Linked DNA regions of Homo sapiens: region 1 is linked to region 2. Evidence: fine-mapped expression QTL. A gene starts in region 2. The other region holds a variant in brackets. All regions are shown on one strand. Distances are between the middles of the regions. Region 1 overlaps ARMC8 (armadillo repeat containing 8). Region 2 holds the start of ARMC8 (armadillo repeat containing 8).

Region 1 (8,336 bases), 100 kb after region 2:
AACAGCTGACAAGAACAGTTTTTCCTTTGAGAAGACTGCAGTCATCAGTGCAGTGGTTGTCCTCAAGGTGTACTGTCCTTCCAGCTGGCACAGGCTTCCTCCAGTCTTCACATTAGACCAGCCTGGACTAAGTTGCTTCATACATTTTACTTCTTTTCTCTTCCCCTAACAGGGTTCAAAAAAGTTAAAAGGTCCTAAGTGCACATGGCTGGTGTAGCTGGTGGACAGGGTCTAGGCCTTCACCCAGAAGGTCATGAGCTTAGGAGCAAGCAGCAGGTGGAGGCCTAGGAAAGGGAGGCTTCCCTGGGAGGGGAGTTGCAACACCTACAGAGCTTCCACCAAAGAGACTACATTGTTGAAGGAACATTGTGGTTTGTCACAAGAGCTTCTCTTAGAAATGAGATTTTCAAGAAAAATAATAAGTTACATTTTCTCTTTGATTTGATAGTATGACCTATACAAAATAGCTGCCTTTGACCAGCTATGGCTTCCCATAGCTCAGGAAGAAACCACCAAAGTGTTGGGGTTCTCTTTTGCCTAAGGTAGATTTTGTTTGGGTGTGGTTACTGTTACTAGCAATGATGTCAGCAGATGAGAAATCAGGGCATTGAGAGTGGAACCTGTGAGAATCCATGTACCTTCAAGTGAAAAATTGCCCAAGCTCTTGAGACAGCTTGACTCTGGGACTTCAGAGCTTTCCTGACTGTTGGCCCTTTGTTCTTTTCCAGACACTGTGCATCTTAGCCAACATAGCGGATGGGACAACAGCAAAAGATCTTATTATGACCAATGATGATATCCTACAGAAAATCAAGTATTACATGGTGAGCCCTTGTCCCCTTTCACCGTAGGATTAGAATGCAGGGACTGTTGCATTTTTAACTCAAAATAAATTGTGCAGAGATTTTAAAAAGAGGAAAAGAATAGATTACTCTGTGACTCCTCAGATTCAAAGAACTCTCTTCCATCCTGAAGAAAAAGAAAAAAACACCAACTCCTTGAAGCTTGTACCACTTGGTAATATTATTACCTGCCAGTCGACTCCCTGCCCTTGTCATCTACTGGTTGCCTCCCTCTTACTGAGTGAAGACCCGGGCTCTTGGCTTTCTCTCAGTGGCCTCCAGTCCCTGTCTTCTGTCTCAAGGCTTCAGTCCCATGGTGGATGAACCCTCTAGCCCCCTGGCACCATAGTTCCTTTACCTGTTTGCTTCTAAACAATCTGCTACCTACTGCCATGGCCATATCCTGCATCTGATCATCACCAGAGACTGCCCATTGCCAAAATGTGGGTATCAAAAAGCCCTCCACTTCTCATTCTGTCAACATCTCCTGACAAAATTCTAATCATGGAGGAAGCCTCCCCTTGTCACACCTATCTGTCTTCTCTATCCCTGCCATGTCAGAGTTAACAACTGCAGAGAAAGGCACAGAACCCCACATGGGCACAGCTCCTCCTAGTGTCCTTCAGTGATTCTCTAGGAAGCTGGCACCCTCATTCTCCATGAGAATATATTCTTACCTGCCCCTCATTCTTTAGACCTCACCTCTTCCCTCCCCCATTACAGTTAGTGATGACCTCAGCTTTTTGTCTTATTAAGAGAAGAGAAACTAAAATCCTTCAGTGGCTCCTTGTTATACCTTGAATAAAGTTCGTATGCCTTTATGATGGCCTGTCAAGTCCTACGTGACCTAACCCATTCATATCCCCAACTTATCTTATTCCTCTCTTCCTTTGTTCACTACACTGGCCACTTGAAGTTTCTCAAAAAGGCCACGTTCTTTCCTTCCTTGGGACCTTCACACATACTGGCTTCTCTGCCTGGAACACTTTTCTTCTCTCTGTTTCACCCTTCAAATCTCAGCTGAACTTATACTTTCTTACTGGACTCTTGCCCTTATAGATTATTCCTCATTACTGCATTTTGTTCACTTCCTTCAGAGCACTTAGCTCAGTTTTAGTGATATATGTTTGTGTGCCTACTGGGTGTCTTTACCACAGCGTAAGTTCCATGAGGGCAGGGACCATGTCAGCTTTGTGCACAACTGTATATCCACCATGGTGTCTGGCCCTTAGCATATGCTTGGTAAATATTTGTTGAATGAAAACCTTACCACTTCAACCAGGGATTCCCTTATCTTTCCAATACTAATCCACACTGTATCCATAATCACTTAAAAAGTTTTCCTTAACTTCTCATACCCATCGAGACATACCCATTTCTCTGTTATTCAAAGACAAAGCCAAACTTCTTTTTATTTTGAGACAGGGTCTCACTCTGTCACCCAGACTAGAGTGCAGTGACGCGATCTTGGCTCACCACAACTTCCACCTGTAGGTTCAAGCGATTCTCCTGCCTCAGCCTCCTGAGTAGCTGGGATTACAGGCGCGGCACTATTGCCCGGCTAATTTTTGTATTTTTAGAAGAGATGGGGTTTCACCATGTTGGCCAGGCTGGTCTCAAACTCCTGATCTCAAATGATCCACCTGTCTCGGCCTCCCAAAGTGCTGGGATTACAGGCATGAGCCACTGCGCCCAACCTTCAAAGCCAGACTTCTTAAAAGCATCTTTTCTGTACATACGGCCTCCTCCTCTGCCTCTAAAGTCATTTTTTAACCTCCTCTGTTTCACCTCTACCCCCATCATTCAACTGAAACTTAGGGCCACCAATGACTTCCATGATGCCAAATCCAAAGGATCCTTTTCTCTTTTCATCTTACCCCACTTACAGCAGACTTCAACCCAGCTGACTATTTCCTCCTCCTGGAAATATCCTTTTCTCTTGGCTTGCGTGACACCATACCTCCCTACCTATCTCTGGACCCTTTTCTCTTCTCTTCTACACGTGCTCTCCTGAGATCAGCAGATCACAACCTTCATTGTACAATAGGACCTCGTAGGGAGCTTTCAAAGATTACTGCTTTGTCTCCTCCCTCCCAAGATTCTTATTTAATAGATCTAGGGTTATAGCCTGGGCATCAGGATTTTTTTTTAAGATCACTGGGTGGTTCTTACGTACAGACAGAGTTGAGAACCATTGCCTTAGGAGAATCTCATCCACCCCCATAGCTTATACTATCATCACTGTGCTGACAATACACTGTAATTTCCAAATGTGTTTCCCAGCCTAGACCTCTCTTCCAAACTCTGGACTTACATATCCGCCTGCCCTTTCAGCATCTCCATGTGGCTGTCTGATAGCATCTTGGAATCTATCTTGATTTCTCCAGCTCTGTCCCCTCATTCACTCAATTTATCAACAAGTCCTATCTGCCCTTCTTCCAAAACTGATCTTGAATCCAATTACTCCTTTTCATCACCACTGCCCCCACCCTAGTCAGTCCAAGTCACAGCACCTTATGCCTGATTAACTATATAACAGTATCTTCCTTGACACTTCCTCACTGTCACTCCAATCCCTTCAGCCCAACTGGTCTTCTAAAAATGTAAATCAGATCTTGTCCCTCCACTGTTTAAATCTTTCAGGGGCTTCCTCTCAACACAGAATGAAATCCAGAGTCCTTACTGTGGCCTACAAGTTGGCACAATTTGGCTACACCTACTTCTCTGAACAGACAGCTCCTTCTTACTTCAGACCTTTTCAGGAACTTTTTCTCCTGCTTGGAATTTCAAGCCCCTTGCTCTTTGCACATCTGGCACCTTCCTATTCTTTAAGTCTCTGTTTAAGTATTGCCACCCTCAAAGAGATCTGTTTTGTGCATTCCACCTAAATTAAGTTCCCACCCCTCCACCCTCCAATTTTCTCTATCCTCATAGTAATTTGTGTCCTTAAAAAATATTGAATGATGAATAAACTTATGCATAGTAAATGCATATTTGTTATAGTATATACAAGCTCATTTATTCAACAAATATTGATTGATTGTCTGAGGCTGGGAGCAGATAAGTTTTATTCTGTTTTGTCTTAAGGGAGCCCAAACTGGACATCTCCTTAAAAGTGTTGGCAGTTAGAAGAAGAAAGAATCACTAGCCATAGAATTCTACTGGAGGAAGCCACATCCATTTCTTTGTCTCTGCTTAGTTGAAATATAGTCCTACATGAGAAGATAAGTCTGTCTTAGCCTTGAAAAAACCATTGAGCATATTTTGCCATTGATACTCTCTCAGATGTGCATAAATTATTTGAACATACTAGAAATTTTTTTTATTGACCAATAGGACAATCATCTATAAAGTTTATTTTATTATTGAGTCCTTTTTCATTCAGGCGAAAACACCCTATCCAAAGCAACCAGAAATGGTTGTACTTTCAGTACATAAAGCAAAATAAATAAGAATTGTATTTAGAAGAATAGGAGGCTCATTAGTGATAGTAAAGACATTTGAGAAATCAACTAGCGATTTCATCAAGTTTTTGGGGATATTCCTTTAGAAATAGGAGTAATTTAATTATTCCAGAAGCTGAATGTATTATATAATGCTTCTTGTTTTCAGCAAGTTGTGTCAGAGGAGTAAGCCATTTATAGATTGTGT[G/A]TGTGTGAAAGTCTAGGTGTTACAGAACTTCATGACCATATATTCACTTTCTTCCCCAAAGGAATTATTGGGCCATTTGAATAAGATAACCAGTAGCTTAAGAGATAAATACCAAATGCACATCCACCCAGTGTATGTTGGCTGTTGGTGACCTGGAAACATAGCCTAAGTCGAAAGCATAGAATTGTCATATGACAGTGTTTCCTCGTGCATGGATTGAATCATAAATTGCAAACTGTACCCATAGCCCTAGAGGTGTTTTGTTTGTCCAGCCAGATGGTTTTTTAAATTTGAATTTGCATGTCTTTTGGCAAGGCTTGTACTCCTCAATTTGCCAGATTCTCCACTGTCCCTTGTTATCTTTAGCCCAACCCTTCTACTCATTAGTGTTAACTTCATGGCCCCTCAAGACATTTGAGTTTGAGGACTCTTCTTCAGACTTTTTTTTTTTTTTTTTTTTTGAGACGGAGTCTCGCTCTGTCACCCAGGCTGAGTGCAATGGCACGATCTCAGCTCACTGCAACCTCTGCCTCCCAGGTTCAGGCGATTCTCCTGCCTCAGCCTCCCTAGTAGCTGAGATTACAGGCGCCCGCCACTACACCCGGCAAATTTTTGTATTTTTAGTAGAGACAGGGTTTCACTGTGTTAATCATCCTAGTCTCGAACACCTGACCTCGATCTTCCACCTGCCTTGGTCTCCCAAAGTGCTGGGATTACAGGCATGAGCCACCTCACCTGGCCCTGCTTCAGACTTTTAGGTTATAGGAATTGGCTATGGTAGGTCCCCCCAAAAAAAAATCTAAAATGAGATTACCACCATTTTGATTTTTTTTTCTTTTTCTGTATTAATAGGGCCATTCACATGTTAAACTGCAGCTTGCAGCCATGTTTTGTATATCAAACCTCATATGGAATGAAGAGGAAGGTAAGAGATTGGTGAGATTTGTTTTGAAAAAAATTATGGGAAGAGTGTCTTGCACAGGGAAGCTAGCAGGTGCCCCTGAGATCCTGGGCAGAGGCTCTGTTCTTGGACCATCTGGCCCAAGCACCCTCTAGAGTTGCCCTGGTATGAGAATCAGTGGAACTAGCCCAAGTCAGCTGGTCAGTCAACACTGAGTGCCCCGTTGGAGCCAACTCTATACCAGATTCAAGGAGGGAGAGTGAGAAGTAAGTGACAGTCCCTGCCAGGAGAGAGCTGATGAGGAGGATGGTGAGATGCACTTGAAGAAGGTGAGAGGAGAGAGTGGGTGGGAGGATGAGCCTTTCGTTTTGAGCAGAGGAAGCACATATGAGGACTACAGGCAGATAAGCATGATGGAGAAGAAGGTGCATTTGTGAGAAATGAGAAGTGCAATGTGACCAGTGAAGCAGCTAGTCTGTAAGGAGGCCTGTATAGATCAGAGGTTCTTTACTTTGGCTGCATATTAGAATCACCTGGGAATTTTTACACCAGGCCAATTAAATCAGAATCTCTCGGGGTGGGCTCCAGGCATAAGTGGTTCTTAAAGCTCCCCAGATGATTCCAATATATAGCCAAGGTAGCAAATACAGGAGAGCAGTGGGTCTCAAGGCTGGGTTGGCTGCATTAGAATCACCTGGGGAAGTTTTTAAAGTGCAGATTTCTGGGCCCCATCCCTAGAAATTCTGATTCACTGAGTCTAGAGAGAGCCAGTATATGAGTGGTCACTGTGGGCTCTTCAGTGGGGAAGACTCCAGGGGATTACTCAGCAGCAGCGCCCAAAACAAAGTGCAAGAAGGGAAACTGGATTCCGCCCACAGACCTAGATACCACGTACCACTTGTGTACTGGGGAGACAAAGCCACCCTCAAGGAGATGTTAGTCTAGTTGGAAGATAGAACAGAATGATATGAAATTGGAAGTGCCAGCTGTGCTGAGAGGCAACAAAAAGTGCTGGGAGGACAGAGGAGGGTAGAAGACAATAGAAAGGGGAAGATAAGACCTGCTTAGAGTAGTAAGAGCCTGGCCTGGTCTGGCCAGGGCCATGGGTATGTCCTGAAAGAAGTGGTGAAGCTGGGAGTCAGTGGCAGAGGGCCTTGTACCAGGCTGAAGAATCTCACCTTGACCCTGTAGTCCATGGAGAAATCAGTCCAACTGCAGAACCCAGGATAGACTGCAGGCAGGATGATCAGGAGGCAGAGAGACGAGTTAGAAGACTGTCAGAGAGTCCAAGCATGAGCGGGTCCAACTACATTGGGAGAGGGTAGAGGACAAGGGGTACAGGAGGAGTAGGGAGTGAAGGACACTGGTAAGGCTCTAGATTGTTAATTGTACATCAAAGAGAGCATTTGCCTGGGTCATGTTCCCAGTAACCTGGCTTTAATCGTTTAGGTTCACAAGAACGCCAGGATAAATTACGAGACATGGGCATCGTAGATATTCTACACAAACTGAGTCAGTCACCAGATTCAAACCTTTGTGACAAGTGAGTATGAATGTGAAAAGGCCTTGCTTTGGGCTGTGTTGGATTCTTTCGTGAAAGGGTTTGAATTGCTTGGTAATTAATGGCCATACTTTTTAAAATCTTTTAGATTCTTAGATTTTCTTCATAATTTTCTATGAGCCACTGTACGACATTTGAGTGAGCTGTAAACTAATAATTACCAAATTATTAAAGACTCTCATCTTATTGTGAATTCACGTGAGTCTGGGCCATCTTAGTGGATTGGATCCAGAGGCCATTTGCGTACATTCGCCTGATCATTAGAATAGACATGCATGTGGCATTTTGGAAAGCAGAAAAACCAGTAATGCAAACATTCATTAGCTCAAAACCTCACTGAACACCCGTTTTGTGCCAGGCTGGCCCAGCTCCTGGGGATACAAAAGCTACCACTAAGGAATCACTGTCCTCAAAGAGCTCATCATTTCCTGGTAGAGTCAAGAGTTATAATCAGATACTCAGCTAACCTCAAAATAGCCATAAATGCTCTTCCTAGCTGTGTGTTCTCCCTTGTAACAGCCTTCACTTTCCATTTCACCTTTGTATAATAACAAATCAGGGAACATCAGTACTTTTGAGTCTCTAGACTCTTGAGCATGGCTTAGAAGCCCTTCAGCCCTTAATGGTCTGGCTCTGCCTTTCTCATCTTCTCTGCACCCACCATGTACACCCCATACTGCAGCCATACCTGTCCGCTTACAGTAGCACACCTTCGTGCATTTACACATTCTGTTCCATCTACTTTGCTATCCCAGTCTCCTCTCCTCTGAGTCCCCATTCATTCATCAGATATCTCTTTTGAATACCTGCCTTCTGCCAGGCATTGTTTTAGGCACTGGAGATATAATGGTGAATAAAATTGATGAAGTCTTTGCCCTCGTGTAACTTACATTCTAGTATAGAAGATAGATGATAAGCAAATGAATACGTAACACAGTATCAGGTGATGAGAGGTACCATGAAGAAAAATAAAGCAAGGTGAAGGAATGGAGAATCAAGAAAATTTATTTTAGGTTAGCTAGTAAAGATCTCTCTGAGGATGACATGATCAGAGACCTGAATGAAATAAGGAAGATTTCATCTGGGCAAATGCATAGAGGAAGAGTATTACAGACAGGGGTGATAGTGGGTTCAAAGGCCCTGAAGCAGGAGTGAACTTGGTATGTTCAAGAAACAGCAAGAAGAACAGAGGGCTAATGAAAAATATGGAGAGGGAGAATGCTAATAGGTGGAAGAATCCAGACCATGAAGAGCCTTGTAGGTAAGGTAAGGACTTTGGCTTTTATTCAGAGTTTAATAGGAAATCATTGGAGACTGTTAAGGAGAGGAGACATTATCTGATTTGAATTCCTTTTTTCCTTTTCCTTTTTCTTTTTTTCTT
Region 2 (8,336 bases):
CTGCACCCAGCCTGATTTTCTAATTCTATCATTTCTTCTACATTTGTAAGTTGGAATTCTACCATAGCAGTAATTCAATTTTTAAATGAGTATTTTCTTTTTTACTGTGGTTTCTAATTTTAAAACTTTGTAAACATCTCACTACTTCTATTTTAGCCATACACATATTTCTTTTATTTTCTTTTTAGTTTTTATTCTGAGACATGGTTTCACTCTGTCACCCAGGCTGGAGTGCAGTGCCACCATTTCAGCTCACTGCAACCCCTGCCTTCTGGGCTCAAGCCATCCTCCCACCTTGGCCTCCCAAGCAGCTGGGACCACAAGCTCAAGGCACCATGCCTGGCTAATTCTTGCTTTGGTTTTTTTTTTTTGGTAGCAAAGGGATTTTGCCATGTTGCCCAGGCTGGTCTTGAACTCCTGAGCTCAGCTCAAGTCAGCCCATCTCCGCCTCCCAAAGTGCTGGGACTACAGACATGAGCCACTGCGCCTGGCCAGGCATATACATTTCACACCCTCTGTGGACCTGATGAATTATTGATGCATTATTTCCCACCGCAAAAGCCCTTGTGGACTTTCCTTTATAGGTTGGTTGCTTAGATGAACATTCGGTAGTCTCATCTGGGAAAGTCCTATTAAGTCCCAGAGGACTGTAGGAGCTCTGGAAAGAACTTTGGAACCAGAGAAACCTGTACCAAAATTGATTCAGCCTCTTACTCCCCAAGCAACCTTAAGCAAATTATTGAACCTCTCACAGTCTCATTGTTTTTTTTTTGTTTTTTGTTTGAGACAGTGTCTTGCTCTGTCACCCAGGCTGGAGTGCAGTGGTGCGATCTCAGCTTACTGCAACTTCCACTCCCAGGTTCAAGCAGTTCTCCTGTTTCAGCCTCCCGAGTAGCTGGGATTGCAGGCAGGTGCCACCACGCCTAGTTAATTTTTCTATTTTTAGTATCGACGGGGTTTCACCATATTGGTCAGGCTTGTCTCAAATGCCTGACCTCAGGTAATCCACCCACCTCGGCCTCCCAAAGTGCTGGGATTACCGGCGTGAGCCACTGCGCCCAGCCTCACAGTCTCACTTTTATTCCTGTCTGCTGAGGGAAAGAACCATGTCTTTGTTCCACTTCAAAACTCTAGTTCAGTGCATTCACAAGAAAACCTGTAGTTAGTGTCTGTTGAACTGCATTGTATCTCCTCTATACTGTTGTTAGTCCATTTTCTTTTTTATTTAAAGTATTTCATCTGTTTTCCTTTTTTTTTTTTTTTTTTTTTTTGAGACCGAGTTTCGCACTTGTTGCCCAGGCTGGAGTGCAATGGCGCGATCTTGGCTCACCACAACCTCCGCCTCCCGGGTTCAGGCGATTCTCCTGCCTCAGCCTCCCGAGTAGCTGGGATTACAGGCATCCGCCACCATGCCCAGCTAATTTTTTTGTATTTTTAGTAGAGACGGGATTTCTCCATGTTGGTCAGGCTGGTCTCGAACTCCCGGCCTCAGGTGATCCACCCACCTCGGCCTCCCAAAGTGCTGGGATTACAGGTGTGAGCCACCGTGCCCAGCCCGTTTTCAAGTCTTTTTAAAGATTCTTCTAAATTTCTTTTGGGACCATTCAGGTTTTGGATTATACCTATCTCCCCACACTTTAAACTTTCCTATTTTTGTATAGATACATTTCTCTCTGGCTTTGTTTCTCATCTTAGGCAGTTCCACAAAGATATTTATAAAGATTTTTCAGATTTTTTTCTGGCTACTTCTTGTTTTGCATTTCATTTTTTTTCTTCATTAAACTCACACTTTGTTGTCTTTTTTTTTTTTTTTACAGAAATTAATACTGCTCTAAGAGCCATGGAACGACAGGGAGAAGTTTCATTTCTGTTTGCAGAGTAGTCAGCATGGATATTTTCCTCTCCTCACCACAGTGCCAAATTTAACTGTTTTTGTTTTTTTCTGCAACCTCCACTTCCCGGGTTCAAGCAATTCTCCTGTCTCGGCCTCCCGAGTAGCTGGAACTACAAGTGCATGCCACTATGCAAGGCTAATTTTTGTATTTTTAGTAGAGATGGGGTTTCGCCATATTGGGCAGGCTGGTCTTGAACTCCTGAACTCAGGTGATCCATCAGCCTCAGCCTCCCAAAGTGTTGTGATTACAGGTGTGAGCCACCGCGCCCATGCTTAACTGTTTTGTTATCGTCACATGCAGGCTGAATCAAAAATTCCTTTTATCTTCCAATTTCTACTCATTACTTAAGAGTGTACCTAAAGTTATTTATCAGCAAAATTTGAACTGGGAGCAAGATTCCTGATCTCCAAGCTTAGGAGTTGGCTATTCAATGCTTTCTTCCTGTAAAATGTCTATGTCAGTCTTCTGGATATAAAACAGGAAAGCCTGGGTAACAGACAGAGGTGTGAGATGTCTTGAGTCACATTTCTAGCTCCTCCCCGCTCGGATTTCAGCCACAGCAGCAGTGACAGTTCTGTGCAAGCTCAGATTTATGCTGCCTATATCCCACCCTAAGATGAAACCTGCAGACTCTGCTTTTTTGTATCAGGTTAAAGAAGCCCGTTCTGTTCTGGGCACAAATATAATCCAGGAGGGCAGGGAGTTAATAGCCCTAGGGAAATCCTCAACCAATACATATGGTATTGGTGGATGAATGCTGTAGCTTCAAGATGGACAATCCAGAGAGGTATTCTGTATGTTTTCAGAGGTGATTGAGGAATAAACAGTGGCATCAATAATGGACAATTATCTTGAATATTTATTCTTTCTTTTTTCACTCTCCCTGACCTATCAATTTTGTTCCCTGAAAGCACTTACTAAATAAACAAAATGCACCCAAATCTTCGTCCCAGGCTCAAACTAAGCCAAAAATTCGTACAACAAACATTTACTAAGTGACTGTGCTAGGCACTGAGATAGACAACCTAGAAGATAAAACTCCCAGTGCCTGTCTTGAAGTGTATAGTGAGACAAACACGGAAACAATTAACAACAACAAAACCACCCTACAATTAAAGTGAAGTATGAAGGCATGGGGGAAAGGGTATCTAACCCATGCCTGGGGGAGACAATTCCTGGAGGATGTATTGCTTGAGCTAATGGATGGAGTGTGGATCAAATACAGTTATAATGACTCTATATACTATGTATTAGGGTTATGTTCTGCCCCATTGCAGTATGCAGTACATGATGTGATTTTAGGTGGTCCATGGATGGACATTTAAACTTTTTGTAGTTAATGTGTACTAGAATAAAAATAAGGAGCACAACAAACTTGATTTCACAGAGTATTATGGTTTAGGATAAAGCCAAAAATTTTTAATGAGTTGAAATTGGCTTTAAATAAAAATATTGAATGAATAATAATACCTAGGTGCAGATTGGCAAAGATTGTGTAGGTGGTGTACAGATTACCCAAGTTTCAGAAATAGTATTATAGCAGAAGGACTACCTAAAATAAAATTCCTGCCTTCCAGGAATTCAACAGTTTGTTAAGGAACACAGACCCATAAGCAGGGGTGGTAAATGCTACACTAAATTTGGAAACCAAGTACAGGAGGAAGACAGGAAAACAGTGAGGAGCAGAGTGCGGGAGAGGCTACCAGCTACAAGACCAGTTGGAAGGCTATTGCTGTAGTCCAGGGGAGAGGTTACAAGAGCCTGAATTAGGGTGTGGCTATAGAAATGGAAGGAATACAAGTAATGTTAACAGGCCAATTGCAACCATACTGTGAAAACCTTACTGGTTGCAAGCAGTACGAAGGTGAAACTTATCCAACCAAGTCAAGGGCAGTGTTGCACACACACACACACACACACACAAAGTAGTAGGACAGCTGAATTAATCAAGTATAATTGAAAGCATACTTTTATTTAGCTTCGGTTATGAGAGTGTTTTAGTGCGAAATATTTAGATATTTGCCCCCATTTTCCCCACTTAACTCAGAAGCTGGAGAAATGTTAACACATATTGTATAACGCTTTCTATGTTCTAGGTTTTTTCTGAGAGCTTCACGTTTGTTGACTCCTCTATCCTCATTAACCTTTATTTTATAGATGAGGAAACTCAAACAGAAGGTTAGATAACTTGCCCAGGGTAAAGCAGCTGATAAATCAAGTAGCTAGGAAGAAACCCAAGCATTCTGGCTATTCTTAACACTACACCAGAATAAACGGGGCCGGCACACAACGCTAAGGCAAGTCACGTATCTGTATCGGATCGTGAAACAATCACTCTTACGGTTGGCAAAGGTTCTGGGATCGCAATTTCCCCACCTATAAAATGGAGATAACGACGCCGGGAGTTTGGTGCAGAGAGAGAGAATGAATATGAAAGTGAACTTCAAACTATGTATGTGGCTCCACGTACTACTTTTTCCAAATATGAATACTGGAATCCATAAACTGCAATTTATCAGTCCGTAAAACTCGTAGCGTCAGGGCGAGACTCCGCCTCTGGGGCCCCGCCCACCGCGAGCGGCAGGTGGGGCCGGCAGATCTTCTTTGCGCATGCGGAAACCGCTGCCCGCTTCCACCTCTAACCCAGGCTCAGAGTAGCTGCTGTTTCTGAGAGAACGATTCGTAGGACAGCCCCTGACGCCATTCCCTTTTGCCCTTCTTTCTGCGGGCCTTTCCGGTACTTGAGCGGTGTCCAGAGCGTGGCCAGTTCTCGTCTATCTGGCTGCCTTTAGGGAGCGGTGCCTAGCGTTGGCCAATAGTTGGCTGTCGAAAGTGCCGGCCCCCGCGCCGGCGCCTGCAGCAGCCGGGTGGGAAGGCTCAAGATGGCGTGCTTGTTGGAGACCCCAATCCGCATGAGCGTCCTTTCGGTGAGTGACCCGCCGCGGCCGCCCGCCCGCCCTCCAGGAAGCCTCATCCCGGTCTCCACCATTCCCCCAAGCGTGGTGTGCCTCCTGGGCACCACCCCCTGGGGTGGACCCCGGCTCAGTCTCGGGCCAGGGAGTGAGCGAGGGTGGAGAGGCGGGATAGACGGGCAGAGGGGACCGCGGCCGAGCCAAAGACGTTTCCAACTCCGGGAGCTCCCGCCGGTGCGGGTTCCCAGGATGGCGTCTGGCAGGCGGGGTGGCTGGGCTTATAGACAACTGGCTGGGCGGCGCGGCTTGGACTTTGCCAAGCGTTTCACTGAGCCTTCCTTTTAGCGATGCCGCTTCCCGGGGGCCGAACGCTCTGCCTTGTGAAGCGCCGGGCTTGCAGCCGGCCTGAGAACGAGCGCCCACTCAGCTCTCCCGGGCTTTGGCAAGAAGAGGTGCAGGCTCCTTGGCCCCCATTTCCTCAGAGCTGCCAGGCCAAGTCTGTGCGGCTTCTATCGCGTCCCAGCACCTGGGCACCGGCTGAAGCAGTTTGCTTTTTGGCAATGGTGATTCGTATCAGCTGCAACTCTTCCTAGTGTGTGTGGTTTTTTAAGCCCCTTTCCTCCGCTCTGCTCAGAGGTCGCGGCTCTGAGTCAGAGGAACTCTATGTTCCCTGTGCCTGGTATTCCGTTTTTCTTTAAGGGGAGTCAAACATTGAAGGGGGGAAAAGGGGGTGAGATTTATTTCCCCATTGTTGAAAGAAGGGAACGTATTGACATGCCAGGAAGTAAAACCTGTTTTTTTTTTTTTTAAAAAAAGTTTTTTTAAAGAAAAAGACGACTTTCACCTTTCACTATGTTGCTCTTGAACCAGGACCAGGAATGAAAGTTACTGGGAGATAACTTCGAAGGATTTTGCAACAAATTCGAGCTGTCCGACTCTGAGAATGGTCAGTTTACCAATGGTTCATTTGCTATTGTTGGAAACAAGCAGGCAAATACTGATTGACCATCTTTTAGACTTGTGGAAGCCAGTCTGATACTGAGAGGGTAGTTGGATTATAAATGACTTGTCGGGTTCCTAGAGTCTTGTAACTACAACCGGTTTCTTTTCTCTTCTCTGACTTGTCCCACAAACAAACTCACCTATCTGAAAACACCTAGGACATTTGCTTATGATTCAGGGTTAGAGCAGTGTGGCAGACCTCAACCTTGAAAAGGCTTAAGTTGTCAATACAATAATAATTTTGTGAGGCTGTCAACAGATTTTTCCCCTGATCCATTTTAGCAGTCATTTTTTCTTATTTTTAAACTGCAACTAAGGAAATACTGTTTACCTAAGTATTAGATCAGATTAGCCTGTTACTCCATCACTGACTGTAATACCCAGGAATATTCTGTGGGAGTGCAGGCCAATGACTTTTACCTCATTATGTTAAAAAAAAATAGTATGTGTCTTGGCTGTTCTCAGTTCTCCTTTAATTATTCATTTAGATTTCATTTATCCTTCAGTTCACCTGAAGTTTACTTTTTGGATGTTGTCAACTTGTATAATGCATATGATTGAAAGTTTTCATTTGTTTCACTTCCTTGGTAAATAATATTTTCTGCTTATTTTATTCAAAAACTTCTTGAAGAGTATTTTCTATTAATACTTCTATTTAGGATTTGCCTTTAGCCCTAGTCTCATTAGGGGCTTTTTTTTTTCTTTAATTAAAAAAAAAGGATTTCCGTAGTCCCAAAGTCTGGTCTATCAGATCTTCACTCCTAGAGCCTTGGGGAAGTAGGAGCTTTTGGATAAATGATTTAAAATGTTTCAATTCACTGATTTTACTAATTTAAAGTGAAACCTGTACCTTTCAAAGTACTACCCAGAGCACCATGTTTTGAAATGCAAACTAGAACAGGAAACATTCATCAGAAATTATCTTGAATGGTTGATTCCTTTAATAAGCTACAATGTACCAGTTACGTACAAGCTCTGTATTGTATACGTTAGAGAATGCAAGGATGAGATCAGAAATGCGTTTCAGGAGCTCATAGTCTGGGTGACGCTATAATTTGATAAACATAATTTCAGCAAGGAGGCATTCAAGTTGTTTTAAAGGATTTCCATTTGAGTCTCTTTATACCTTCTCCTTGGGAAATCTCATTGATTTTCCTGTACCCTTAACTGATCAGTTCACACATCTGCATTGCCAACCTTGACTTTCTTCTACATCTAGTCTTACATCTTAAATTGTGTGGATGACACCCATCGCTTCCAATAAAGCACATTCCTTCTCCTAAGGGGAATTAGTTATGAGTTCCCAATTTCTGTTAATGGTGTTATCTTTCACTGATAAGTAACTGTTAAACCTCCTGAATAATCTCTGATTCTTCCTCCTTTCATCCCCCTGTATCTACCAGTTGTTAAGCTCTGTTGCTTCTTTATTCTTAGTGTTTCTTATATCTTTCTCTTCCCATGACCACCCTCATTCAGGACTTTGTTGTTTTGTGCCTGCACTACCACAGCGTCCTTTTAATTATTTTTACTGTCTTTAATGTCTTACACTCTCAGTGCAAGTCCATGTCTACTTAAATTTTCCTAAAGAACTCTTCCTACAGCCGCTCCTCGGTTTCTTTTCTTGATTGAATTTGTTTTGCCCAAAGGCCCAAGTTTATATTCAGCTTCAGAGTTGAGATTCTTTATTTTCTTATCTTTTTTTTTTTTTTTTTTTTTTGAGATGGAGTTTTGCTCTTGTTGCCCAGACTGGAGTGCAGTGGCGCAATCTCGACTCACTGCAACCACCGCCTCCGGGGTTCAAGCGATTCTCCTGCCTCAGTCTCCTGAGTAGCTGGGATTACAGGCATCCACTACCATGCCTGGCTAATTTTTTTGTATTTTTAGTAGAGACAGAGTCTCACCATGTTGGCCAGGCTGGTCTCAAACTCCTGACCTCAAGTGATCCACCCACCTTGGCCTCCCAAAGTGCTGGGATTACAGGTGTGAGCCACTGCACCCGGCCGAGATTCTTTATCTTCTACATGAACCTGCTATCCTGTATAAACCGGCTTTCTCAGGTTAGAGTGATACAGAATTCTTCCAAACTCCAGTAAATCTTATTCTTCTTACTCATTTGTACATATGAATTTTAACTTTGTATATATATATTCTGTACATCTACTTTGAGCTTCTGCCATTTGCTAGGCAAGCATGGTGTTGAGTTTGGGAATACAGCCGTAAGCTACACAGACCTCTGTCCTTTTGGAAATGTTAGCCTAGTGGGAAAAATAGATATCAAATAATCACACAGTTTGTGAATGGTGATTAGTATTATGAATGAAGTATATAGGGTGCTGTTCAAAACATGTCATAGAGGAAACTGATCTAATATGGAGGGCAATAGGAAGAACTAGGGAAGGTTTCCCTGAAGAAGTGATGCTGAGCTGAAAGTTCAAGGATAAGTAAGAACTAACTAGAAAAAGTGACAGAAGAAGAGCATACAAGGCAAAGGGAACTGCTTTTGCAGAGGTCTTTAATAATACTCTAT

The links.
Region 1: its variant is fine-mapped to the expression of ARMC8 in whole blood (INTERVAL, PIP 0.95).

Annotation. Positions count from the first base shown.
Region 1 is chr3:138,283,703-138,292,038 of GRCh38, forward strand. ARMC8 (armadillo repeat containing 8) reads left to right here. Exons shown (of 22, transcript NM_001363941.2): 19 at 729-824; 20 at 5,346-5,418; 21 at 6,844-6,937. It also overlaps a transcript of NME9 not described here. Among named protein-coding and RNA genes, the nearest start is that of NME9, 42 kb to the right of the region's middle. The variant G/A (reference allele first, on the strand shown) is at 4,494.
Region 2 is chr3:138,182,778-138,191,113 of GRCh38, forward strand. ARMC8 (armadillo repeat containing 8) reads left to right here and starts at 4,524. Exons shown (of 22, transcript NM_001363941.2): 1 at 4,524-4,822. The coding sequence starts at 4,778.